Homo sapiens: one gene and its partners. The protein of the gene in region 4 purifies or fractionates together with the protein of the main gene of each other region. This does not show direct contact. Each region holds a gene or a part of one and is shown on either strand. Other genes may lie near its edges. The genes, in order: CXXC1, DCP1B, MSL3 and BOD1.

Evidence for each region.
Region 1: the proteins of BOD1 (region 4) and CXXC1 purify together in Homo sapiens (affinity purification with mass spectrometry; 5 studies listed by BioGRID and IntAct, with this or other methods). This does not show direct contact.
Region 2: the proteins of BOD1 (region 4) and DCP1B purify together in Homo sapiens (affinity purification with mass spectrometry; 2 studies listed by BioGRID and IntAct, with this or other methods). This does not show direct contact.
Region 3: the proteins of BOD1 (region 4) and MSL3 purify together in Homo sapiens (affinity purification with mass spectrometry; 4 studies listed by BioGRID and IntAct, with this or other methods). This does not show direct contact.

What each region holds. Positions count from the first base shown.
Region 1 is NC_000018.10:50,281,825-50,284,706, forward strand, and holds the end of CXXC1 (CXXC-type zinc finger protein 1), read right to left. Parts: intron 2,739-2,882; coding exon 2,554-2,738; intron 2,278-2,553; coding exon 2,070-2,277; intron 1,992-2,069; coding exon 1,881-1,991; intron 1,741-1,880; coding exon 1,691-1,740; intron 1,538-1,690; coding exon 1,441-1,537; intron 1,183-1,440; coding exon 1,030-1,182; intron 916-1,029; coding exon 769-915; 3' UTR 523-768; downstream 1-522. UniProt on the Homo sapiens protein: Transcriptional activator that exhibits a unique DNA binding specificity for CpG unmethylated motifs with a preference for CpGG.
Region 2 is NC_000012.12:1,945,553-1,952,493, forward strand, and holds the end of DCP1B (mRNA-decapping enzyme 1B), read right to left. Parts: coding exon 6,864-6,941; intron 3,783-6,863; coding exon 3,534-3,782; intron 735-3,533; coding exon 654-734; 3' UTR 501-653; downstream 1-500. UniProt on the Homo sapiens protein: May play a role in the degradation of mRNAs, both in normal mRNA turnover and in nonsense-mediated mRNA decay. May remove the 7-methyl guanine cap structure from mRNA molecules, yielding a 5'-phosphorylated mRNA fragment and 7m-GDP.
Region 3 is NC_000023.11:11,753,815-11,761,238, forward strand, and holds the start of MSL3 (MSL complex subunit 3), read left to right. Parts: upstream 1-4,422; 5' UTR 4,423-4,449; coding exon 4,450-4,551; intron 4,552-4,767; exon of another isoform or gene 4,768-4,893; coding exon of another isoform or gene 4,894-4,959; intron 4,960-5,832; exon of another isoform or gene 5,833-5,978; coding exon 5,979-6,061; intron 6,062-6,588; coding exon 6,589-6,684; intron 6,685-7,022; coding exon 7,023-7,123; intron 7,124-7,424. UniProt on the Homo sapiens protein: Non-catalytic component of the MSL histone acetyltransferase complex, a multiprotein complex that mediates the majority of histone H4 acetylation at 'Lys-16' (H4K16ac), an epigenetic mark that prevents chromatin compaction.
Region 4 is NC_000005.10:173,613,615-173,620,765, forward strand, and holds the start of BOD1 (biorientation of chromosomes in cell division protein 1), read right to left. Parts: upstream 3,037-7,151; 5' UTR 2,823-3,036; coding exon 2,586-2,822; intron 1-2,585. UniProt on the Homo sapiens protein: Required for proper chromosome biorientation through the detection or correction of syntelic attachments in mitotic spindles.

The DNA of each region.
Region 1 (2,882 bases), on a different chromosome or scaffold from region 4:
TCCCTTCCCTCCCGCGGTCTCCACAGCCGATACCGAACGCGGCAAGGAAGCTGCTTCGCGCCTGCGCACTCCCTGGCCCTGCCGGCGCTCTCCTCTCCCACCTCTCGCTGGGGTCTATCCTGTGTTCGTGGGTCCCTCCGAACATCAACCCCAGGGGGGGTCGTGTCCCGCTCCCTCCTCCCCGCCGAACAGCTGTGGGAGCGCGCGGGGCGGGGAAAGGGGCGGTGCCACACCGCAGGTAAACTGAGGCACGCGGGAGGGCGCGCCCCTGCAGGAGGCGGATCCCCAACGTGGGGCTTGTGGGGAAAAGGCGGGGCCTGGCGTCCACAGCGGACGACAGCTCTGGGTGGGAGACAGGAGCATGCATGGGCGGTGTCACCACACTGAAGGCGCGCTGCGTAGACCCTCTGCCCGTGGGAGGCTGGGAATGTGGGTCCCTGGGCTCTCGCGGGGTGCAGGCGCCCCCCATCTTATCCAGAAGTCTGGAACAGTTGCAACCGCAGCAATGTGGAGACAGCTTCCTTGGTTTCTTCAAAATTTTATTAACAAAACCCAGGGAGAGGAGGCAAGGATGAGTGGACTCCGCAGCCCCACCAGGCACTGAACATGTCGACGGGGACAGTCCCTCTGATAAAGGCAGATGGGCGGTCAACCGGTGGATGGGCACAGGGAGAACCGGAGAAACAGATGAGTGGAGGAACGGACACACGGGCACCGGGCGGCTCCCCCATCTGGAATGCAGGGTGTAAGGGGTCCGGGCCAGGAGGCTCAGCGGTCGGCACTGGAGCGCAGGTCGGTAGTGAGGGGATCGTGCTGGATCGTCTGGTGCAGCATCAGGGCCAGCAATCCCGCGCGGTTTGTCATGGCTGTGCGCACATTGCGCTCCTGCTCAAACAGCTCGTCCAGCTTGTACCACTGCCAAGGGAGCGGCAGGAGTCCTAAGCAGGAACACCTGCAGCCCCGCCTGCCCCGGCCACGTCCGACATGGAAACCTACCACATGCAGCACCAAAACCGCACAGAAACCTACCACACGCACGCGCTCCAAGTCCACTTCCGCACGCCGCAGCTTCTCCCAGCAGTAATGGCGATTGCACTGGCGCTTGGGCAGGCGGCAGAAGTCACCCGTGAGCTCAAAGACATCACGTACAAGGGGGCACCCGCATACCTCGTCAGCTGGCACCTGCAAGGAGGCCAGGTTGGGGGGATGAATAGCGGTGATAAGGGAGAATAGGAATGGGGGCTCAAGGAGGGAGAAGGAAAAGAATGGAGGGTTCAGGGAACGGTGAGGAGGCATGGAAAAGGAGGAATGGAGGGTGAAGCAGCAGGGAAGCTGAGAGGAAAAAGTGAAGGAAAAGTGAGGTGAGGAAGGAAGGGATGAATGTGGGACAGCGAGGCAGGGAGGAGGGGCAAAATGGGAGGAGCTGAGGGAAAACCTTACTTTGGGGTCCCGTGAGTGCTCGGGGCACAGCACCTGGAGCCGCTTACAGTATGTTTTGCTCTGAGGATTATACACATCACAGAAGAGTCGTGTGGCCCTGGGGATTTGGAGTAGAGAGGGCAGTAGAGGGAGGGAAGGGAGGTCCATCTGTCCTGGCTGGTTGCCCGTATCCTGCCCCAGCTCCACACACATCCCACTTCTGACCCCCGCCTTAACCCCCCACCTCTCACTGCGTGGCACCCTCACTTACCCTTCAATGCGTGTGGGGTACATGGACCCAAAGGACGTCTGGCTCTCATACTGGAGGGATGAGCACAAATGGAGGGAACTGTGGATGTGCGCTGCATGCCCTCCCAAGACACCACCCAGACAACAAATCTGTCCCCCACTGGCCCACTGATGTTCCCACATGGTCCGCCCCCTCAGTCTGACACCCCAACCTTGGCGTAGCAGCGCTCCATGTGGCGCAAGGCAACACGTGGGTTGATGGGGTGCCCACAGGAAACACAGAAGATCTGCAGGTCTGTGTCATCACTGTCACCCTCGTTGCTCTGCATGGAATGGAAGGAACAATAAGGCTGGGAAGGACAAAGTACAGGCCCTGCTCTGCTGCGCCCCTGCTTGCTCACCTCCTCATCCTCGCGCACAGCCTGCTGCTTGGCACGTAGAATGATGGCCTCAAGCTCATGGAATCGGCGTTCCATTTCCTGAAGGCGAGTGCGGGCACTCTGCTGCTCTCGGCGAATGCGTTCGAGCAGCTTCTTGCCGTGCTCTTCAGCAATGCAAGGGCTCTGCTGCCACTGCTGGATGCGCTGGGGGAGGATCTCGTAGATGCGGCTGCAGGGAAGGTAGCAAGCAACAGAATGAGTGAGGTGATCAGTAAGTGAGAATGGCAAAATAGACGCAAATGGCAAAAGGAGAAGTAAATAGGTGACTGGCGGAATGGTGGCTGGATGGACACACGGGCAGGTGGGTGGGTAGGTGGATGGGTGAGTGGGTAGTGGCTGTTTGGTGACTGGTGGATAGCTGATTGACTGGTAGACATACAGAAGGCTGTGGTCAGGCCCTACCATGCACTTCCTGACTCCCTTGAACCTCTCAGGAATGACTCACTTGGCTGCCAGCTTCATGCCACAGTCATCTGAGCAATACTTGGAGCTGGGCTGGGCGGGGCGCACACAGCCGGGCCCCAGGCACTGGGGCAGTGACGCAGGGTCCTTGGCATCAGCCCTCTCTGGGTGTTTCCATTTATCCTTGTGCTTCTGCTTCTGCCGATGCCGCTTGTATCGCTCCTCCTTCTGTTGAGCAAGACAAGTCAGGTCAGGGTGGAGTCAAAGTCAGCCCCAGACCCCAGACCCTTGCTCCATTCTAGCCCTTTCTGGCTCTTGCCCCATTCAGCCTCTGACCTCTGCCTCTCCCTCAACCCCACCCTCTGCCTTTCC
Region 2 (6,941 bases), on a different chromosome or scaffold from region 4:
TATCATTCCACTATCAAGACACATGCACACGTATGTTTATTGCAGCACTATTCACAATAGCAAAGACTTGGAACCAACCCAAATGTCCATTAATGATAGACTGGATAAAGAAAATACGGCATATATACACCCAGGGAATACTATGCAGCCATAAAAAAGAATGAGTTCTTGTCCTTTGCAGGGGCATGGATGAAGCTGGAAACCATCATTCTCAGCAAACTAACAAAGTAACAGAAAACCAAACACCACATGTTCTCACTCACAGGTGGGAATTGAACAATGAGAACACACGGACATAGGGAGGGGAACATCACACACTGGGGTCTGTCGCGGGGTGGGGGACTAGGGGAGGAAGCGCGTTAGGAGAAATACTAATGTAGATGATGGGTTGATGGGTGCAGCAAACCACCATGGCATGTGTATACCTATGTAACAAACCTGCATGTTCTGTACATGTACCCCAGAACTTAAAGTATAATAATAATTAAAAAACACTTGAGTATAAAAAAAAGTCTGAAACATTTTACTTCATATTACACATACTTTTTTTTTAAAAAAGGCAGAAACATTGAAGGAAACAACACTCAACATGAAAGAACCTTGTGCCGGAGTTCTAGAAGGACCTTGAAAATCAGTTTTAAAAGGCCTTGCTGTCACATAGTCTTTTTCATGGCTGCTTGAGTCATGCTGAAGAGATAGGCTTCATAGATTATATTTAAGAAGTTGTCATCATTCTGGAAAACAAATCGAAAGACCCAAGAGAATGTTACTTGGTTGGCAGACACAAAAGGCTTCCTCTGTCTTAGAGCTGAACTGGCCTTTGGATACTGAGACACTCATCTCTCCCTGTCTAACAGCTGGTGGTTTTTAATTGCATGTGTGAATGTTAAGTGGGGTTGACGGCAAGGCCGGACAGAGCTGATGGTTTTCCATGGTCAGTATGCACAGCAGCAAGAGCTCATTACATGCAGCACAGATGGGCAGCCCAGACACATGGCAGCATGGAGCAAGGTTTACTCAAGAACAGCCTGGGTCTGCTGCATGAAAAGACATGAAGCCCCAGCAGACAGAGGAGTTAGGAGGACATGATCCAAGTCAGTGGTCTCAAAGTTTGGTTAAGAGATTGCTGTGGTGTGTTTTTTTGTTTCTTGTTTTTTGGGTTTTTGAGACTGGGTCTCACTCTGTCACCCAAGCTAAAGTGCAGTAGTGCCATCATAGCTCACTGCAGCCTCAACCTCATGGGTTCAAGCGATCCTCCCACCTCAGCCTCCAGAGTAGCTAGGGCTACAGGTGCGTGCTACCATGCCTGGCTTTTAAGTTTTTTGTTAAGACAGGGTCTCACTATGTTGCTCAGGGTGGTCTTGAACTCCTGGGCTCAAGTGAGCCTCCCACTTTGGCCTCCCCAAGTGTTGGATTACAGGCATGAGCCACTGTGGTTCTTAAAGGCCCTCCAAGTCACCTACAATGTGTCTGCTTTGTTTTGGGCATTACTTAGGATTTTACTTGCAATATGCTTCATCAGTACTTCATCAAAGCTAATATAAGTCTTCCCATAAGTTATGGAAAGTTTCTAGCCTTGGCAAGTGGGCAGGAGTAAGACTGGTAATCTCTGGGCTCTTTTGCCTGGCTAAGGAGTGAGAATCACGGTCTAATCAGTGGTTTTCCTCATGTTTTAATTCTAGAGACTTCTCCCTCCCACCCAAATTCTTTACAGTGTTAGTAATTCACCCACACTTCACATTCCCCCTTCATTCCCTCTTGGCACCCCACACAGATTTAGCATCATTCTCATGCAATGAAGAGAGTGATGTTATCCCTCTTTTTCCTGCAAAGTAGTCACAAAGTTCCTCTGCATGAGATTGTGTCCTAACAAGAGGCAGAAACTAAAAACAGACTGCTTGAGTGACTGGGAATATGAGGTGTGGTACACGGGAAGAAGTAAAATGCACGCAGAGTGGAGGGCAGGGGAATGTAATTTCTAATCCGCCATGTTCAGCCACTACTCTGGAGTAGAGTCTCAAGACAATGTGAAGGGAATCAGCCAGAAAACATATGGATCTTTTAAATTACAACTTAAGAAACTGGCTCAAAGTAAAGAGGTTCACAGATGTCTAATTCCTCCTGAGCTTACTATGAATAGCTTTAAAAGGTGGCAAATATTTTTATCCTGATATTTACTTATGAATTAGTAGGGCTCAATCATTTGCTGTTGACCTTATTTATCTCTGATTGTTATTATGCTTCTGCTGACTTCTAGCCCCATTCCTTTCATTCTTCCTCAAACATGTTTCCTTCTTTTGTAGTCTCGCTATGTTGCTCAGGCTGGTCTTGAACTCCTGGCCTCAAGCAATGCTCCCACCTTGGCTTCCCAAAGTGCTGGGATTACAGGCGTGAGCAGCCACTGTGCCCGGCCAACATGGAACCTTTTTAAAAATGTTGTACTAATTGAGACCACTGTCTTTTTAAGTAGGATAAGACAACCGCAGAAGGGCTGGCCTGCTCTCTAAAGGCCGTCTGATGCTTAAGCAAAGTACCACACAAGTTTTCTTAAAGATTATCTACCAAAAAGACACCTAAATATGTTAACTGGGGTGTCTGAAGTCTGTCTGGCTACAAATGTTCCACTTTTCAAGGACTGCCGTTGATTTCTTGGGTGTGCTTTGCTAGGGCACCTGTGCTGAATGTTCTCCCGAGGCTGGTCCCTGCCAACATTCATGTGGTGAACGTGGCCCACGGGAGAGTACGTGGGAAGTGGCACTCGGGGGCCAGGCTGGGTGCATCCCAGCCCTGCTTATGTACGAGCTCCGTGCCTCAGGCCAGTTGCTCAGCCTCAGTTTCCTTGTCTGTAGAATGGGAAAAATAACAGGGTTGTTATGTAAGGAGTGAATGAGTTATATGCTTGTGTGTAGCACTGAAAATAGGGCCCGGCGCCAGCTCTGTGGAGTGTTAGCTATTATAGCACTCATTATTATTTCATAATTTCATAGGCAAGTGAGGCTAGCAGCTCACAAGGAGTCCTGTCACTCCATCCCGTCCTAATGAGCAGGTTTCAAAATGACTTGTAAAACATACCTGTAGCAGCCATGGCCATTATTTGCTTCCCTCCCTGTTTTCCACTCGCTCAGTGGCCTCTTCCCCACTCAACAGATGGCCCCTTGCCCAGGACTGCTCCCACCTCTACCTCCCAATGGTGAGTTTTCTGTCTGGGCCTCCAGCACCCAGGGTCCTCTCAGGGACTGCTTAATCCCCAGCATATGCTTCCTTCTCTTCTGACAGGTGACAGCTTGGAGGCCTTAGACAGTCCTTCAAATTACAAAATCCTTGAAGAGCTGAGACACCCAAGCCACACTTGGTATTATAAATAACACCTAGCTAACTGAGCACAGAAGCCGCTGGGGTCAGGATGAGTTGTTACACACACCTGTTATTCTCACGGAAGCTAAGCAGGCCTTGGCTGAGTCTTTATCTCATAGTTGCAGCCAGGAGGCCAACAGGCGTGGTCAGGTGCGAAGGGAGATGACGTGCTTGCTTACCTGAATGAGGTACAGCAGTGCCTCCTGGAGCTGGAGCTTGGTGAGTGGGCTGCTGGTGATCACGGAGGGCTCCGGGCTCTGTATGGGCAGGAGGAGGCTGGTGGCAGCAGCAGGTGGCTCCTGGCCTCCCACAGGCAAGAGGCCGCTCTCCCTTTCCTTTGGCGGGACGGAGGTGGGTTGTGCGAACACCATGGGGGACATAAGCAGAGACGGAGCTGCTGTAGCAGGGATGCGCTGAGGTGAGATGACCTGCTCACAGCAAATACACACAGAGAGCGGGGTTCAGGAGCAGCTCACGGCATGATAGCTTGCAGCGGCAGATACGGGTGGTCTAAGCATTCCCTGTCCACAGCTTTCCTAGCTGAGAAAAGTTTATGGGAAACTGATTCTTGCTCCACTGCTCCATGCACCTTCCTTCAGCATCACTGAGCAGCTCTGGTATCGTCTGCTGTGGGGACTATTCTTTCCACTGCATATGCAGCTTGGCCTCTGGGTGACAGCTTATTTTTCAGGCTACCAGTATTTGGCAAGTGCATTTAGGACTACTGACCTTTTCCTTAGACCTGGTTGTCCATGACCCTGACCTAAAGGTCTCACAACCTATGTGAGCTGCCACCCTTGTTAGGGGCCTCCCCATTTCCCCTCCTGACCCCGGAGCACAGGAGGCGCTGTGAGAGCAACTCCCCGCCCCTCCTGCGGCCTCACTCACTTCTCGTGGGGAGGGAGAGTGATGTGTGGGTCCACCCCTTCTGGGTCCTTCCCTGACAGGATCTGCCTGCCTGCAGAGAGCCCTCATCTTCAGCTTCCGCAGCTGATGTGTTTGGGCTGACCCGGGCGGCCTGTTGCTCAGCCCTGCCAGAGCCTGTCTGCTGAGTCTAACTCCCTTGGCAAACAGACCTGAAACCAAGTTTTCTAACAGCCCTTTCAGTTATGCAAGTGACATTTTGATCCTTATCTGACTGACTCCTACAGCTATCATTTGCTTCTAACTCAGGGAAGAAAAAGAATGTTATTTATCAGCCTCCGAACTCCCCGAAAGAACTCCTAAGAGGGAGGCAAGGAGGCCAGCAAGCTAGAAGTTGCTGTAATTTTATAATCAATCCCTTAGCGTCTCTTTGAGCAAAAGTTGGCCTAGAGGAAGGCAGGCTGTTTCTTTTAACTTGTCCCTACATGACATTTCGAGGAGCGGTGCTGAGCAGTGATGCTCCCGGAGGTGGAGTCAAGCATTCTGAGCACAGCGTGGGCTGCTGAAATGCTTGCCTTTCTCACTCGGCTCTTGATATTTGTGAGTACTGAAAAGTCAAGGGAGTTGTACATCAGAAATTTAAGTCAGACTATATTCATCGCATGCTTCTAATTCTAAATCATCAAAGAGGAAAAAAGCAGACATTTTTAAAAAAGGGACAATAACACTGAAATGAGGGGGAGTGGGAGTTATAAATATTGTTTCTATAGCAGTCGGTACTCAGATTTGGGATGTTAATAAATAATAAATGAGAACACTTTGACTCAGGGGCTCACAAAGACTTTTGGCACATGCCTAAGGTCTTTGTTTTCAAAAAACTGAATTTTTTGTTTTGAGACAAGGTCTCACTCTACTGCCCAGGCTGGAGTGCAGTGGTGCAAACATGGCTGACTGCAGCCTCAACTTCTTGGGCTCAAGCAATCTTCCCACTTCAGCCTCCCAAGTAGCTGGGACCACAGTGGCATGCCACCATACCCGGCTAATTAAAAACAAAAAATTCTTGTAGAGACAGGGTCTATGTTGCCCAGGCTGGTCTGAAACTCCTAGGTTCAAGCGATTCTCCTATCTTAACCTCCAAAGTGCTGGGATTACAGGCACGAGTCACCATGCCCAGCCAAAAGTTCAAGATTTTTGAGAAACTGTTATAAGTTACATAACAGGCCAGGTGCAGTGGCTCACGACTGTAATCCCAGCACTCTGAGAGCCCGAGGTGGGTGGATCACCTGAGGTCAGAAGTTCGAGACCAGCCAGGCCAACATCGTGACACCTCGTCTCTACTAAAAAAATACAAAAAATTAGCCAGGTGTGGTGGCAGGTGCCTGTAATCCCTGCTACTCAGGAGGCTGAGGCAGCAGAATCGCCTGAACCCGGGAGGTGGAGGTTGCAGTGAGCCGAGATCGCACCATTGTACTCCAGCCTGGGCGACAAGAGTGAAACTCTGTCTCAAAAAACAAAAAAAGGTACATAACAAAACATGACAAAGGGCCAGTGATGATATATGTGATACACAGGGAGAACTTTCCAATTTTTAAACCCAATGTACTTTCAATGAATGTGTTCCAATCCAAAGGGAAAACAATTCAATGTCAGATCTCCAGATGTTACCCACAGGCAGATGATCAATAGCTTGTGGTTTCCTCACTGTCCCAAGTCAGTGATGGACATGGAAAAGCATCTTCTCTAAAGGAGAGAATCTTTCTAAAAACTGTCATATTTTCCCTCTCTGGCAGTTTGTGTGGGGGGTGGAGGTGGGTGGCATGCATACCTCTCCTGATCTACAGTAGGCTATACTGACGATACAGAGAAAGATAAAAACTGGCTGCACCTTTCAGGAGGAAATAGGCTGTTTTTTGTTTATTTCAAGAACCTACAGCATGGGCTGTGGGTAAGGAGTCTGTTTTCTTCATCATTATGTACCCACATGTAGACAATGCCTGACATGTAGTAAGTGCTCAAAAATATTTACTAAATAAGTGAATAATTTACTGTGGACTGAAAAACAAGAGGAGGTCAGTTGCTTGGCATTCCAGATTGATTTCAAGGCAGACCATACTAAGTTCCTACAGTCAAAAATTACGGTTTTCTCCCATGTCTGTGTTGGTCTTCAGACCTCCTAATATAACGAAGATTTAACTCTACAAGTAATGCTCTCAAAAAGGTTGGGGGAAGTTCTCAGATTGTTAACCAAAGTGAAGATTCTCCTTCCAGGTAGAAAGTTCAGGCAATCAAGATGCACGGAGGTGCACCCTGCTCCAAACAGAAATGTACGTGACACATTGGTCCCTAGAGCATGGAAGTGGACTCTACATTTCACTGCATTATAGTAATACCTTTTTCTTTGTCTGTCTTTTTTTTTCTTAACAGACAGGGTCTCGCTCTGTCACCCAGGCTGGAGTGCAGTGGCACGATCATGGTTCACTGTAACCTCCGCCTCTTGAGCTCAAGGGATCCTCCCACCTCAGCCTCCTCAGTAGCTGGTGCTATAGGCGTGTGACACCAAGCCTGGCTACTTTTTTTTTTTTTTTAGGGACAGGATCTTGCTATGCTGCCCAGGCTGTTTTATTTTGCCCCTGGTACATATTTACCTGGAAAAGAGGAGTCTGCTGTTCTGTGTTGGGTGTCTTGTTGATCCAGGATTCCAAGGGTTTCCCTGTTCCAGAGCT
Region 3 (7,424 bases), on a different chromosome or scaffold from region 4:
TCTGGTCTTTCCTCCTCCTAGGTAAGATGTAATCAAATACCCAATCCTAAAATCACCTCTTCATGACATCATCAAATGCAGAGGAAAACCTTACTTCCTTAACTCCTTCACAAGGAGAAGGGCTTCAAGCCACCAAATCATGGAACACAAACTCAAGTCTTCCAATAAGCCTTTTCTAACTCCCTCACTGAGGCTCCCCACAACTTCCCAAGGCGCGCCTTCTCCCTGGCTGAAGTAAACAATATACAACTTGTTCAACGCAAGTTCAACAAGTGTGTTCCTAGTGGTCTTTGGCTGGAGGGCACTGATGGCAGTATTCTGGAACGCTTTCTTCATAATATAACCACAATGTAGGTAGCTTGGTTTTTCCCTTGGAACTACATCCCTATAACATCTGAAGAATTACGAGTGGAAACCAAGAAGCAGTGAAAGTCAACTCCACTTGACCTGAGAAGCACCAACAAGGATTAAGGATTAAGAAGCATTGCAACTTTTGTAAAAGGATCACTATAACTTTTATCAGAATATTCATTAACCACAAAATTATTCTTAGGATGTAGGTCTGCATATCACCTAAGACCAAAAGAAGAAAAAAAAATCCAATTGTAAGGTCATCCAGTTCTAAGGTCAAAGTTGTAAGATCATAGATTGTTCTTAACTTTATAAATGGGTTGTTCCAGAAATTCATTTAAAGTTTGTTTCTAACCTAAAAGAGACATTCTAGTTGAAACCGTATCATAAATGGTAACTAGGTTTACCCTTCATTCCCAAAGCCTACTGAATACTGAATACATGTGAAACAATATTTCAAATGCAACATCAATTATGTCTACATGTCCATGGAAAAATGCATTCTCACCATCAGAGGTCTGTCTCATCAGTATCACCAAAATTAGCAATAGACAACATACCAGATGCCAATAACCTAACTCTACAACTGCAGGAGGGGCGTGATCAGGATGCTTTTGCTGCATGGAGGTTTATTATGTCACAGAGCAAGAAGTTTGGCGTTAGGCATCAGGATTAGTTAATTTAGTGCGTCAGGGGCTCAACAGCTCCCCAGTGACCCAGGTGAGCGAGTGCTAGCCTTGGGCTCTCATCCTCAGAGCCTCAGTGACGATGGCCAGCTCCGTGGTGCCAAGGTGGCTACAGCACTGACACCCTCTCCAACGCCGCATTCTGATGCAGATGATAACACCCAGTGAGGAAGAGGAGACTTTATGCCAGATGTATTTCTTTTGGGGGGAGGCAGGTGGAAAATATTTTCCAGAAGTACTCACAGTTCCCCATTTTAACTCGCTATGAGAATTTCTCATTGGCCAGGCGTGTATCACATGACCATACTTAAACCAGTCACTGTAAGAGGAAGGGGATTGCCGGGATTGGTTTAGACCAGTAGTTCTCAGCCCCGCCTGCACAATGGAATCGCCTGGGAACTTTGGAAACAAAATTCCAACTCCTGGCAACAGTATTTTAACAAGTTTTCAAAGTTCCCCAGCTGTTCCAAATGTATACCCAGAGGTGAGTCCTACCGTATTAGCCCGATCAAGTGTCACTCCAGCCCTGGTGAGAGGTCTGCTCTAACAATGTGGGATGGCAAACACCTGAACAAAATTGGGCCTCTGCCAGCGGGGCGGCGGGCGACGCAACTAACTGGATCCCGCACTGCACTCACCTTGCTAAGAGAAGCAATTCCTGTAGGTGACCTATAATGAGAAATCAAAAAGATTTGTTATAAGATTTAATGGTTATCTTAATCCCGACAAAAACAAGACCATTCTATAATCATGCCCGAATACAGACGAAACTACTGTCCAAACCTCAAAAACTGGAAAATGAGGAAAACACCTAAGTTGCAATTCAAGAGTGCCTTCCTCTCTGGAGCTTTTTCAGATACTCTCCCTCCTCCTAGAGAGAAGTAAGCTCTTCTGTCTCCTCTATTCCACACCAGCTTTATCAGGGTATGCACATAAAGCTTGAACTTGATTGCTTGCTGCTCCGCCCTCCTGAAATGTGCCCTCTGGGAGGACAGGGGTAATGTATGTATTCTACTTTGTGTGTCTAGCAACCAGCACACAGGAGGTCCAATAAATATTTGCTGAATGAATGAATGAATGAATGGGGGACACGGAGAAACAGATAAGAAATGCCTAATGTCAAGAGCAAATATTTACCCAGCCCTTATATGTCAGGCACTACACAAAGCCATGTACACTGAATTGACTCATTGACTCCTAAAAAACCCTATGAAGTAGGAGCCACTATTTCCTTCATTTTAAACATGAACAAAGTGCATTACAAAGAGACTAACCAGTTGTCCATGGTCACAAGCTAGAAAGTGACAAGCATGGGACTGGGTCCTGGAGAGTGGTTTGCAGAGCTGGCCATGTTCTTAACCTTTACACCCGAGAGGAAAAATGATGTCCTGCATTAAGGGTGGAGCCCTCTCTAGTGGATCCTAATCTGGAGGAGGACTGTAAGGGGTGCTGCCATTGGCAGGCTTTTTAACTTTTAGGTTCCTGAAGGCTTTTGCATTCTTGGACTTTTTAGAGGGACGGGGAAAGAGGAATTCCTCAATGACATAAGAAGGGGTGGAAATGCGGAGAAACAAAGGAAAGCATCTAAAATCCTATCCCTGAAAGGGTAGAGCCTGCAGCAGAACTCTCTCCAATCATGGGCAGGAAAAATAAAAAGGTGAATACTTCAGTTACGGTTTACACAGGACGTGCAATTACATGTGCTTCCAAGCCGCCCCTGCCATTTGTGGGGAACACCACCATCTACTGTTCTCATCTCTGATACACCACAACCTGGAGAGGAATCATGGTTCCAGTTCTAGTTTCTGCACCGTATTACCCCAAAGGCCATTTGACCATCTTCCCCCAACCTTTAACTCCTCTGTATAGCCTTATTCTGGCGGATGCAGCTATTACTCACCCAATTCCTTGGGCCAGAAAACCTGGAAGTCTCTCAAGATTCCTCCTTCCCTCTCCTTCACATCCAATTGGCCACTGAGTTTTGTGGGTTCTATTTCCTAAATCAATCTGTTCATTCATTCCATATTATGTGCCACGAATACGCCGTGATGAATTGGATAAGACCCCTACCCCCAGCTTCAAAGAGCTTACTGTCTTAATGAGGTCATTTTGCAAATGAACAACCCATTCTATAGCACAGTGGTACATGCAAGAAAGGGGTTAAGCAGAGTCCTGGGAGGGAACACCTCAGGGCTTTATGATTCATCTTGGGAAGCCTGAGGGCTTTTCTGTTGGCATGCCCACGCTGAAATGTGAAGGATGTATACCAGGAACCTGGTGAAGGAAGCGTGCAGAGGGGAAGCAAATGCAACTTTCTGGAGGCTAGAACAGAGAAGGGGAAGTTCACCAGGTCCGCAGAGATTAGCCTGGAAGCTGGTCTCCAGCCCGGTCCTAATCCAGTAATTACACTGCCCAACGGCTTTCCAAAACTCAAAAGAAAAAGCCCAGCACTGTCCTTCCTGTCCCTGGAAGTTTGTCCTTCAAGTCTCCCATCACTTGTCATTCGCTCATCAAGTATTTACTTAACATCCACTCTGTGCAGGTACCATATTGATAGCGGCCTCAAGGGTGCTTCTATTTAGGGAATTTTTAGTCTATTGGAGCAGATAGACCGTGGGGGGCATTCCGGGGATGCTGGGGGCTGTCAGGCCACGCTAGAAGCTGACACTGAAGACGTCAGCTACTCTTTAAGGACCCATCTGCCTCGCTGCCCACTGCTCAACCCGTCACTGGGGGCTCCAGGCCTGCCACCGGCTTGTCCTCTGAAGGGATAAGCAAGTGTTCTATTCACAGCCCGGAGTGCCCTTCTGCCCTCGCCCGAGGCCACTGCCCGCCTGGGGCCAGCTCCAGCGCTGCGTTCTCCAAGCGTGGCCACACTCATCGGCGCGCTGCTCTGCCAAGGGGGCTGACGCGGCGCGCACGGCCAGGGAGCTCTTGGGGGCAGACGCCGTCCAGCCTCCCGGCCGCCGGGTGCCTACTCCAGACCGGCTCTCTCTCTCCCTAGGCGCCTCCCACGCCCGGGCCGGAGAGCGGGCGCTCGGGGCGACGGACGACCCTGCGCGCACGTGGGCGCAGCCTGGAGGCCGCGGGGACCCTCTCCCATGGGGGCGACGGGAGACGTCCTGCCGGTAGACCTTGGCCAGGGGGTCGCGCTCCCCGCCCGCACCCCTCCCGGAGCCCCGGCGGGGACGTGCGGGGACGCGCCCGGGCGGGAGCGCGCGCGCCAGGCGCCTCCGAGGTCCCGGCAGCGGCTCGGGGCGGGCGGAGGAGGGGCCGAGGGCGGGGCGGCCGCAGCCTCCGCCATTCCCGGCCCCCCCCGGCCACGGCGCACCGCCTCCCCGCCCCCGCCCGCCCTCCCCCACCGCGCGCGCTCCGCCCGCCCCGGAGCCTCGCCCTCCGCCACGATGAGCAAATGAGCGCGAGCGAGGGCATGAAATTTAAATTCCACTCAGGGGAGAAAGTGCTGTGCTTCGAGCCTGACCCCACCAAGGCGCGAGTGCTGTACGATGCCAAGGTGCCGCCGCGGAGGGACAGGGAGGAGGCGCGGGCTGGGGGACCCGGGACCGGGGGCGGGGGCGGGGGCGGACGGCCGCGCGGAGCTGAGGGACCGGCCGGGCTCCTCGGCCTGCGAGGAGCGGTGCGGCCGGCAGGGGGCGCTCACAGGGCGCTACGCCCGGGAGTCGGGGCGGGGTCTGGGATGCTTCCACTTCCTTCCGTCAGGCCGGGCGGCGCACGCGCGGTTGGGAGCCTCGCCCATGCTTTGTCGCGTTACCGGGGCTACCGTTTGCGCCCCCGACTGCAACGGTGGCCGCTGAGGGAGGAGGCTTCTCGAATACGGTTTCTGTCTTCGCGTTAAATGTCTCCTTCTGTGCGGCCTGGTGCCGGGTGGGCTCCTGTGGGACGCCCTGGCCGTCCGATCCAGGTTCTAATTCATAGTTACACGGCGCTGGCCGCTGACTTGCGACGTTGTGTCCCTGGGACCCTAGTCCAGTTTAGGCCCCATCCCGCCTGTAGGCCGTGAACCCCATCCCGAGGGCAAGGTTGGCCCAGTGTTTTCGTACCCCAGGGCCTTGCAGCATTTACGTTTTCAAACTCTGAAGGATTTACGTGGGTCTGACCATAGTTGATGGGAATCGCGCCCCGGGCCGGTCCACCTAAGTCTCCGGGAGCTGAGCCACATCTTGCAGCTCCTCAGATTTGGGTGGCGGGCAGGAGTTGGCACCAGGTCTCCCAGATCCCCAAGGAAAGCACCCAGGTGCTTTCATTTCAGAGACCTGGGTTCCTAGGGCCACCTGGGCGAAGCCTTAGGCGGCAGGGACAGGGGCAGTCCCAGGTGTGTCTTTGGCGATGTCTGGACAGCTCTGTCCATTAGAGATGCTAAAGGACATCCCTAAAGGGATGAGCATATTCTGCCTTCAGTTCCCTCCCCTGCTGCTCCTGTCTTTTAACCGCGTCTGCTATCCCTCTTTCTCCTCGCCCTCCAGCCTCCTCGGGGCGGAGGGGGGGGGGCACGCCCCATCATTAGTTTTAGTTGTTCCCTCTAGGGACACAACAGGGAGGGATTCCAGAGTCTCCAGCTAGCCATCCTGGCACTGGACATAGGGGAGCCCAGGAGACTACAACTCCCAGAGCTCTCAGGGCTGCAGCTTTCATCTAGCCTGGAGTCTCTCCTTAGTGACAAATCGGCTGGCCAATGGCTTCAGAAGCCTCACACTGTCTCACGCTCAGAGACCAATCACGGGGTGGTTGGACGGATGTTTCCTATTTTGAAGGCGTCCACTTGGGGGAAAAAAATGAAAGGAAAAATATTTCAACCCGGCTGTCGGTCTAAAAGAGGAGAGAATGCTTTCTTTAAAAAAGGGTCTGTGAATTAGTTTTCCTGATCTAACTTCTAATTTTCTGTATGTTCTGCCATTTGTGGGAAATATTTCTTCGTTTCAGATTGTTGATGTTATTGTTGGGAAAGACGAAAAAGGCAGAAAGATCCCAGAATATCTGATCCATTTTAATGGTTGGAACAGAAGGTGAGTGAACTTGTTAAACCAGACTGAAAATTGATTGTCTTTGCTGCATAGAAACATTGCAGACTTAAGTTTCAGAAACACTTGTAGAGAAGTTTGTTTCATTTCCTGCTTTTACTTTGTAGCATTGCAAACTTCTTTAAGTTTTTGAAACACTTGTAGAGAAGTTTGTTTCATTTCCTGTCTTTACTTTGTAGCGTTGCAAACTTCTTTAAGTTTTAGAAACACTTGTAGAGAAGTTTGATTCATTTCCTGTTTTTACTTTGTTACCAGAACTTGCCTATTGTGACGAATAGTTACTTTTAAGTCGATTGTATTTGGATTCTGTCTGGGTGATTCTGGAAACCCCAGTTGTTTCTGTGTCTGAATGAGTTACTTTTTCAGTTTATTTGCCTCCTCTTTGTGATTTTAAAATATTTAAATCGTTTTCTAAAAATGTAATTCTGGGGCATTTCTATTGCTTTGAGGTACTTTTAGTCGTTGTTTCATATCAAACTAAAGTACTGAATTTTCCTTTTTTGTTCAATTAGCTGGGATAGATGGGCAGCAGAAGATCATGTGCTTCGTGATACCGATGAAAATCGTAGATTACAGCGTAAATTGGCAAGAAAAGCTGTAGCTCGCCTGTAAGAATACAAAAATCAAGATATAAATGTTATCCAATGTGTTTTCTCTTAGTGTTTTAGATTTTTATGATATAAAAGTAATACAATGACAAATATCATTTATTAAATAATTTTAAATATTTAAAGTGTGTAAGGGGAAGAGTGTTCCTATGGTATTCTAAATAACAGTGTTTTCAGAGTGGTTATTGTATAATTTTCTGAAATGGAAATTACCATTTATGTTCTAAAGTTTAATAATTTTTCAAATGTATTTCATTGTTTATTATATCTTGTTTTGATCTCAAGACTCACGAGTTCAATGTCAAAACTTATTTCAGTTGTTTGCTACTCTTTTTCAGGAGGAGCACAGGAAGAAAGAAGAAGCGCTGCAGGTTGCCTGGTGTGGACTCTGTCTTAAAAGGCCTCCCCACTGAAGAAAAAGATGAAAATGATGAAAACTGTGAGTAGCTTCACTTCATTTCTTTTGGCTGAAAGAACTTCCACCTAGACTGAGAGAAGGATTCACTGAAATTCTAGACAGGGAAACACTTCAAGCTCATTATGTATAATATTTGCCCCATTTATTTTTGACAATTAAAGTAGCAGTCAATATAAGTCAGTAAATCAGTAATAGAACGTTAGCAGAGTCATGCTTGTGACTACTGCCCTCTCGGCCAGCATCTTTGTACAAACCCCTCATGGGTGTGTTCTCATGGGATCTGTTCTCTTTTTGGCACCTCCCAGGCCTTGGTCCCATTTAT
Region 4 (7,151 bases):
CCATGAACATGTGAACAAGTGCTGGTTATAAGCTGCTGAGATTCAGTTTGCTATGCAGCATTACTGCGGCAAAGTTTGCTAACAGTCAGGGAAATGAAGTTGACAAAGGAACCAGCAGGCCTCAATTCCATGACTGGCCTCTTCCAAAAGGTTGAGAGAGCAAACTCAAAGACTCCACTAAACCTGGAAAAGAGAAAGGCAAGGAAATGGGGGCAGAGGAGTAAAATTCACAGATACCATGTGCTATCTGCCTAGTAACGCCTTCTTTCTAGTAACTGTCTTCCTCTCTTCACAAGGGTAGGGCAGAGGGTGCCACAGGAGTGGGTGCCTGAGCCACGCTAAGACAATGCAGACATTCCCTGGGATTTCCCAGATTGGAGCTGACAGCCTCTCTCTAGAGGAAGAAGCTGTAAAATGTAATCAAGAGATACTAGTAACCAAATGGATGACTCCACTCTGAACCAACAGTAAAACAGATATCAACAGAGATGAAAGACAGAACGAATGGGGAATATCTGGTTCCAAACGCACGCCTACCACCCTCTGGGAGAGTTTGTTCGTTCAATCCTTCCCTGGATTCCGTAAGACAATAGATTCTCCCCTTTGCATAAAGCAGTTAGGATTATTTTTGTCCCTTGTAAGCATAAATCCTGATGCCATACCGTCTACTCAAAATAACGCACCTGGTTTGAGATGATACGAACTGTTTACCGAAAAAGGACAAAGGACAGTGAACATCACCACCAAAACACGTAACAAACCCAGGCGATACAGAATCATCTCAGTTCAAGAAGTCAAAGGAACTCATGAGCCCACTCATAACGTTTTACTGTACTACCAACCCCTCCACCTGTTCACTTATCAGTTCAAAGTAAATTACAGTGCAAAGTAAATTACAGACATCTGTTCAATTTCCCCTAAATACTTCAGCAGTCTGGGGTGGGGCCCAAAATGTGCATTTCTAACAAGTTCTCAGGTGATGCTGATGTTAATCCAAGCACCACGCTTTGAGAACCACTGGGCTGAAGCAACAAAGGTCTCAGATAAGATATGCCTGAAAAAACACTATCTTCAAGAACTAAAACAACCTGGAATTCTCAGAAGGAACAGCTAAGGAGCTGTACATGGGAAGGTTCCAACCACTCTCCCTCACCAGCCGCTCAAGAGGGTAGTCCCCTCCCCCCTCAGGGGATACGTTCCAAGATCCCCAGTGGGTGCCTGAAACCTCAGGTAGTACTGAACCCTATATACACTACGCATGAATGTCTTTGAGGGCCATTATGAAGTAAAATAGGGGTTACCTGAACACAAGTACTTCCATACCGCAACAATTGGGTAAATGAAACCGCAGAAAGCAAAACCTTGGATGGGGCGGGCTACTGTAGTCGCTTTTGTTTTAAAATCACACACAAAACCTAACGGAATATAAGAAATATGAATGGAGAACTTGTCCTAGGAAAGGTGAAAGCTCTGTCAATACAGATCTGGGATGTATATGTATTAAATTACTTTGTTTCAAGGACAGACTTCTAGTTGGGCTTTTCATCTTGGAGAAGGAACAGTGTATACCACTTTCTCTCTCTACATCCGTATTTACCACCTGGTTTATTTACATGTCAGTTTTCTAACCTAGACTATAAGTTTTGAGGATGGGGTAGTGACTTATTCCTGTAATCGCACAGCTTGGCAACTAGAGGCCAATAAACGTTCAACGAATAAACAGACTACGTTTTTCCCTATCTTAAGGTCTAATTCTAAGCTCACAATCTTGCTGTGAGGTAAGCAAAATGTTTCCATGACAGGCTCTGGTAGGAGAAATCACTACCCTGCAGGAGTCCAGTGACAGGGTCTCCTAACCTACAACCACAGTCGTGGCTAGACAAGTTTTGAAAAGGAAGAAAATGAACATTCCAGCAACTACTGTATGTCTGATACTTAACACCCATTATTTCATTGAATCCAAACCACCCTGACGAGTAGGTAAAGTGAAATAGCGTTTTACTGGTGGGACTGACCAATGGCATTAGGATCTCAACTAGGCACCAAATCTCCTTTTATCAATGATGAAGTGCAAAATAAGGGTGCTGTTTCTACAATTTATCTTAATTCAACGCCGTACTAGTCTGCAAAACAATGAGCTAGAGAAAAGGAATAAACAGCTATAAAATGGTGATGACTGTGTGTTCAAATCATTGTGTTTAATGCCAGCTTCTCAGTGGTGAGTACGGAACAGGTGGAAATTCTAAAGCACGCTTGCTTATCTACTTGGTTTCGAAGTTTGTTATTAAGGGCCTCAGAGGAGTTCCATCTTGGGAATGATACGGTCTAGGCTCTAAAACCCACATTGAAACCCCAAGTTCGGAGAAGGGACTGGGTAAAATCACAACTAGTAGTAAATGTATCAGGCAGGAACCCACGTGTGCATCGCTCAGAAAGCTCTCCGTACTGCCCCAAGCGGTGTAAGACCTCACCGCTGAGATTTCTAAGCTATCTTTTGTTTTGCTCTCGGCTTTCGAAAATCAAAGCTGCCACCCGGCGGCCTCACGTGCAGCCCCGCTCCCCAACGCCCAGGCGGCCGCAGCTACCTTGGTGTCCACGTCGGCCAGGCAGTCCCGGCGGAAGCTGTCAAAAAGGCCCCGGCTCTTGAGCTGCTCCACGATGAGAGCGATGAGCTGCGGGTCGCCGGGAGGCAGCGAGGCCGGGTTGATGGGGCCACCGCCCCCGCTGGCCCCAGTAGCGCCAGTCGCTGCCCCGGCAGAGGCCTGGCTAGTTCCGCCGCCGCCCACCGCGCCAGTTCCCCCGCCGCCGCCGCCGTCCGCCATGGCTGCGCCCCGGGCCCACAAGGGAGAACGACTATAGCTTCTTCTCCAGGACAGAAGGCCTAGAACGTGTAGAGGTGGTGAAGGGGGCGGTGAAGGAGGAGGGCCCCAAGGCGGCAGCGGCGGAGGTGGCGATGGCGGCAGGGGCGGTGGTGGGGGCGGCGGCGGCGAAGGCCCCCTCTGATACAGCAGAGGTTGTGGTGGACGCGGCAGAAACGGCCTGCTCGATTCCAGGCGCACCCCAGATGGCGTCAACGTTGACCTTTGCATTGTGGGGCGGGAAGTTTTCTGTGGCCATCTCCGGCGTTCTTTATAGGCAGCGGCCTAGCCGAGAGAAACTACAACTCCCGGCAGGGTTCGTGCTTGCTCGTCGCGATTTCGCGGGGTAATATGGGAACTGTAGGCGCAGGCCTCGTGATCGCTGCAACCCGCCAGGCCTTCCCCGCCAGGCCTTCCCCGCCCACTCTCTGCTCACTTCCCATTCAATCAACACGTCCCAGCAGTGCCCGATTATAACAGTCATCTGTGGAGCTGATTAAAAGTATAGATTACCAGAATTATTTCTTAAAGATTTTTATCCAGTATTTACGGGTCGAGACCTAGCAATCTGTGCTTCAGCATGCACTCCCACGTCCTTCTTGAACAACATGTTCCGGGAAATTCCGGAAACAGTGGAACAGTCAAACTTCTATTGTTCAGAAATTTGTGAGTTTCCCTCCTTTTGGTTTTAATAGCAATGCATACTCATTTTAGAAAATTGGAAAATAACGGAAAAGTGTGAAGAAGAAAATAAAAGTTTTCCTTAAGTCTGTCTTATATGTGTGTGGATTTCCTCCCAAATATTAAATATTGTCAATCATAAGCCAATATTGAATAATTGAAAAGTGTCAGGCGTGATGCTATGCACTTTCCACGCACTTCTTCACGATAATTTAAAAAAGCAGATACATACTACTATTATTGCTATTTACAGACGTAGAAATGGAGGCAGAAGAAAGTTTGTTAACCTAATCACATACCTAGAGGTAGAAAAGTAGGATTTGAACCCAGGTTTTGAGGATCTAAATCTTGCATTTTAGCCTGAGGTATCCTGAGAGCTAGTTGGTATCCCACAATAGGTAAGGCTTTATATCCTGATTTTTTTAAGTAGCCACAATTCACCATTGGAATCCTATAGCTGCCACCATTATCCTCTCTTCCCTTCATCTTTTGCCTATTGTTAGCTCAGCTCCCCCTCCCAACCTCAGCAATTATGTCTGCTATTGTTGTTTCCTCATCTTACACAAGCAGCAGAGGGGATGTAAATAGCAAATTCTGCAATATCCTTGGCTCCTGCGAAGATGCAGAATTGGCAAAGATCCAGGATGTTCTCCACACCAATATTTAGTACTCAAGACAGTTTAATTTTTTTTTCTTTTTTTTTTTTGAGACAGAGTCTCACTCTATCGCCCAGGCTGGAGTGCAGTGGTGCAATCTTGGCTCACTGCAGCCTCCACCTCCTGGGTTCAAGCAATTCTCCTGCCTCAGCCTCCCGAGTAGCTGGGATTACAGGCGCATGCCACCATACCTGGCTAATTTTAGTATTTTTAGTAGAGATGGGGGTTTCACCATGTTGGCCAGGCTGGTCTTGAATTCCTGACCTCAAGTGATCTACCCGCCTCAGCCTCCCAAAGTGCTGGGATTACAGGTGTGAGCCACCACACCTGTCCAAGAGAGTTTAAATTAACCCTCAAAAGAAACATTCAGGTGTTGGATTATACTCATCCTCTAACACCAGCTCAATCATTCACAATGGGTCAGTTAATGACAAACATTCTCTCTTAATAGCTCACCATCCTTGAGATTACCTAATGTCTGTTCCTACTGGTTGACTCTACACTGATCACTCACCTTTAACCCCAGGAGAAGCCCAGTTCAGGCTGCCTCAGCCCCAGGTTCTTTCTTCTGCAAGCCCTTGATCACTCTGACTAGTCCCTTCTCCATTTTTGGCACCCCACATCTTACTCTCCTTCCTCAGGGAAAATTCTTCTGACCCCTAGATCCAATGAGATATTTCCTCCATGCTACAGAAACTCAAAGCCTCATTTTTTGTAGCAATTATTATAATTGGAAGTGAATGATTTACAGACAAATTGGCCACCTGAGTCCCCTGATAGGGTGTAATATTTAGAATGGGGACCACGACTTGTTCATCACTGTGTCTCCAGCTCTTAGCACGATAGTTCTTAGCTCAAAGAGAATGTATAAATTCCTGTCTGTTTCCTAAAGCTGTGGGATAGCATCACAGAGTGCGTGGGTAGGATTATGTGTAGCCATAATCTTCAGAAAAGAAGGAGCATTCTAGCAGGAGATGATGGATGAATCTGTCATGACTTAAATAGGTAAGTGATCCTGGAGATTGTCTGCACTTGGTTCACACTGTGACAATTTCACTATCTGTCATGGGGACCTGTGTCTTGGTTGCTGGGTCTCTGAACATTGACAAAAGGCTGCATTCTGTATCCATGACCTTCCCTCTGCAATCAAAGTAAATGATGAGGGATAAAAGGGGAAGGGGATGAGGAGTGAAGATGATCAAGCTGAAGGGAGGCTTATTATTTATCCAAACCGTGGAATAGGAGGCCTCCACAACATCCAAAATGTATTCTTCCCTTCAAGAGACATGTAATACACACCAGCAGTCATCAGAGAGCGCCATTGCTGTATTAATAATCCAAAACATTCGGAAATGGCTGTGCGGAACATTGTTTTAACTTTGGCTTAGGTAGTAATCTGGTTTTCAGGTATCCTTCACGTAGCAAATTGTTGTTGCTTCTCAGTATTAAAACTTGTCTGTAATAAGTTGCCCGACCCCAAAGAATTACGCATTTTAGGTGCTGGAATATTTTTTGTTGAAGGCCACATGAAAAAGTAGAACTTCCCCAAGCCCAAATCTAGACCTCACTGAAACTGGAAAAGAAATGAGATCTATCATTTGCCAAGGGAGATATAAGAAAGTAGTCACATGTATGGACTTTTTGCATCAGGTGACACTGGATTGGAATCCCAGCTGGCAAAGCTGGATCATCCCTCTGAACCTTAGTTTCCCCAGGACAGTGGAGAGGCTTAAGTGCCATTTCGGCAATCCATTTTAGCACAATTCCTGGTCTTTAGCAAATGTTTAATAACATATTATCATCATGAATTTACATTTGGGTCAGGAGGTGATTTAATTAACTTCTATTTCTCCTCTTAGCCTCTAAATTCCACAAAGGCAGGGATTGTCCATTTCAACCATCATTGCATCCCTAGCACCAAGAACAGTGCCTGGGACATCAGGCTCTCCACAAATATATGACGGATGAATGAAAAACAATAAAGGATGAGTGAATGGGAAATTTACTCTTCTAGGTATAGGATAAGGCCATTTAAGACTTTTGATAATGCCCTGGACCAAATGTCAGAATATAGTCAATATTCAGAGGGGTCAAGTACAATCTAGGAATCTGTCCATAATATATGACTAAACTGGACTAAGAGTCTGGGGCTTGGAGCAGGCCCAAGGTTAGAAGATAATCTGGGAGTTGCCTTGGTAACCTTCCGACCTTCTAATCGAAGATCCTGGTCCTGAAGCGAGAGCATTCCAGAGCCCTAAGACTGAGCCCAGGGCTGCATTTAGACACCAAAGCTGCTTGGGGTAGACTAGTTATTGGTCCTTCTTTGTGATCATGAGGTGGCTCTTTTTCTTCTTACCTATGTTTATTCATCCAAGGAGTCTTGCCAATTCTTAGTCTGGACAGCTGTTCATTTCTTAATTAACAGCATCCAGAGTTTCTTGAGATTGCCTTGTCTATAGCATTTTGGCTACATCTGCACCATCTGATCCCTGCTTTTTTGTTGTTGTTGTTTGTTTCCTTTTGATGTTTTCCAGCATCTCTAATGATAGATTGGATCTGATACGCATTAAGAAGAAAAACAGGGGCCGGGCGCAGTGGCTCACGCCTGTAATCCCAGCACTTTGGGAGGCTGAGGCAGGCGGATCATGAGGTCAGGAGATCGAGACCATCCTGGCTAACACAGTGAAACCCCGTCTCTACCAAAAATACAAAAAATTAGCCGGGTGTGGCGGCGGGTGCCTGTAGTCCCAGCTACTCAGGAGGCTGAGGCAGGAGAATGGCGTGAACCTGGGAGGCGGAGTTGGCAGTGAGCTGAGATCGCGCCACTGCACTCCAGCCTGGGCGACAGAGCGAGACTCCGTCTCAAAAAAAAACAAACAAAAACAAAAACAACAAAAACAGGGCTTTAATACACAGGAATCCCCAGCACCAAGCAACACTACTAGCATCTCTCCAA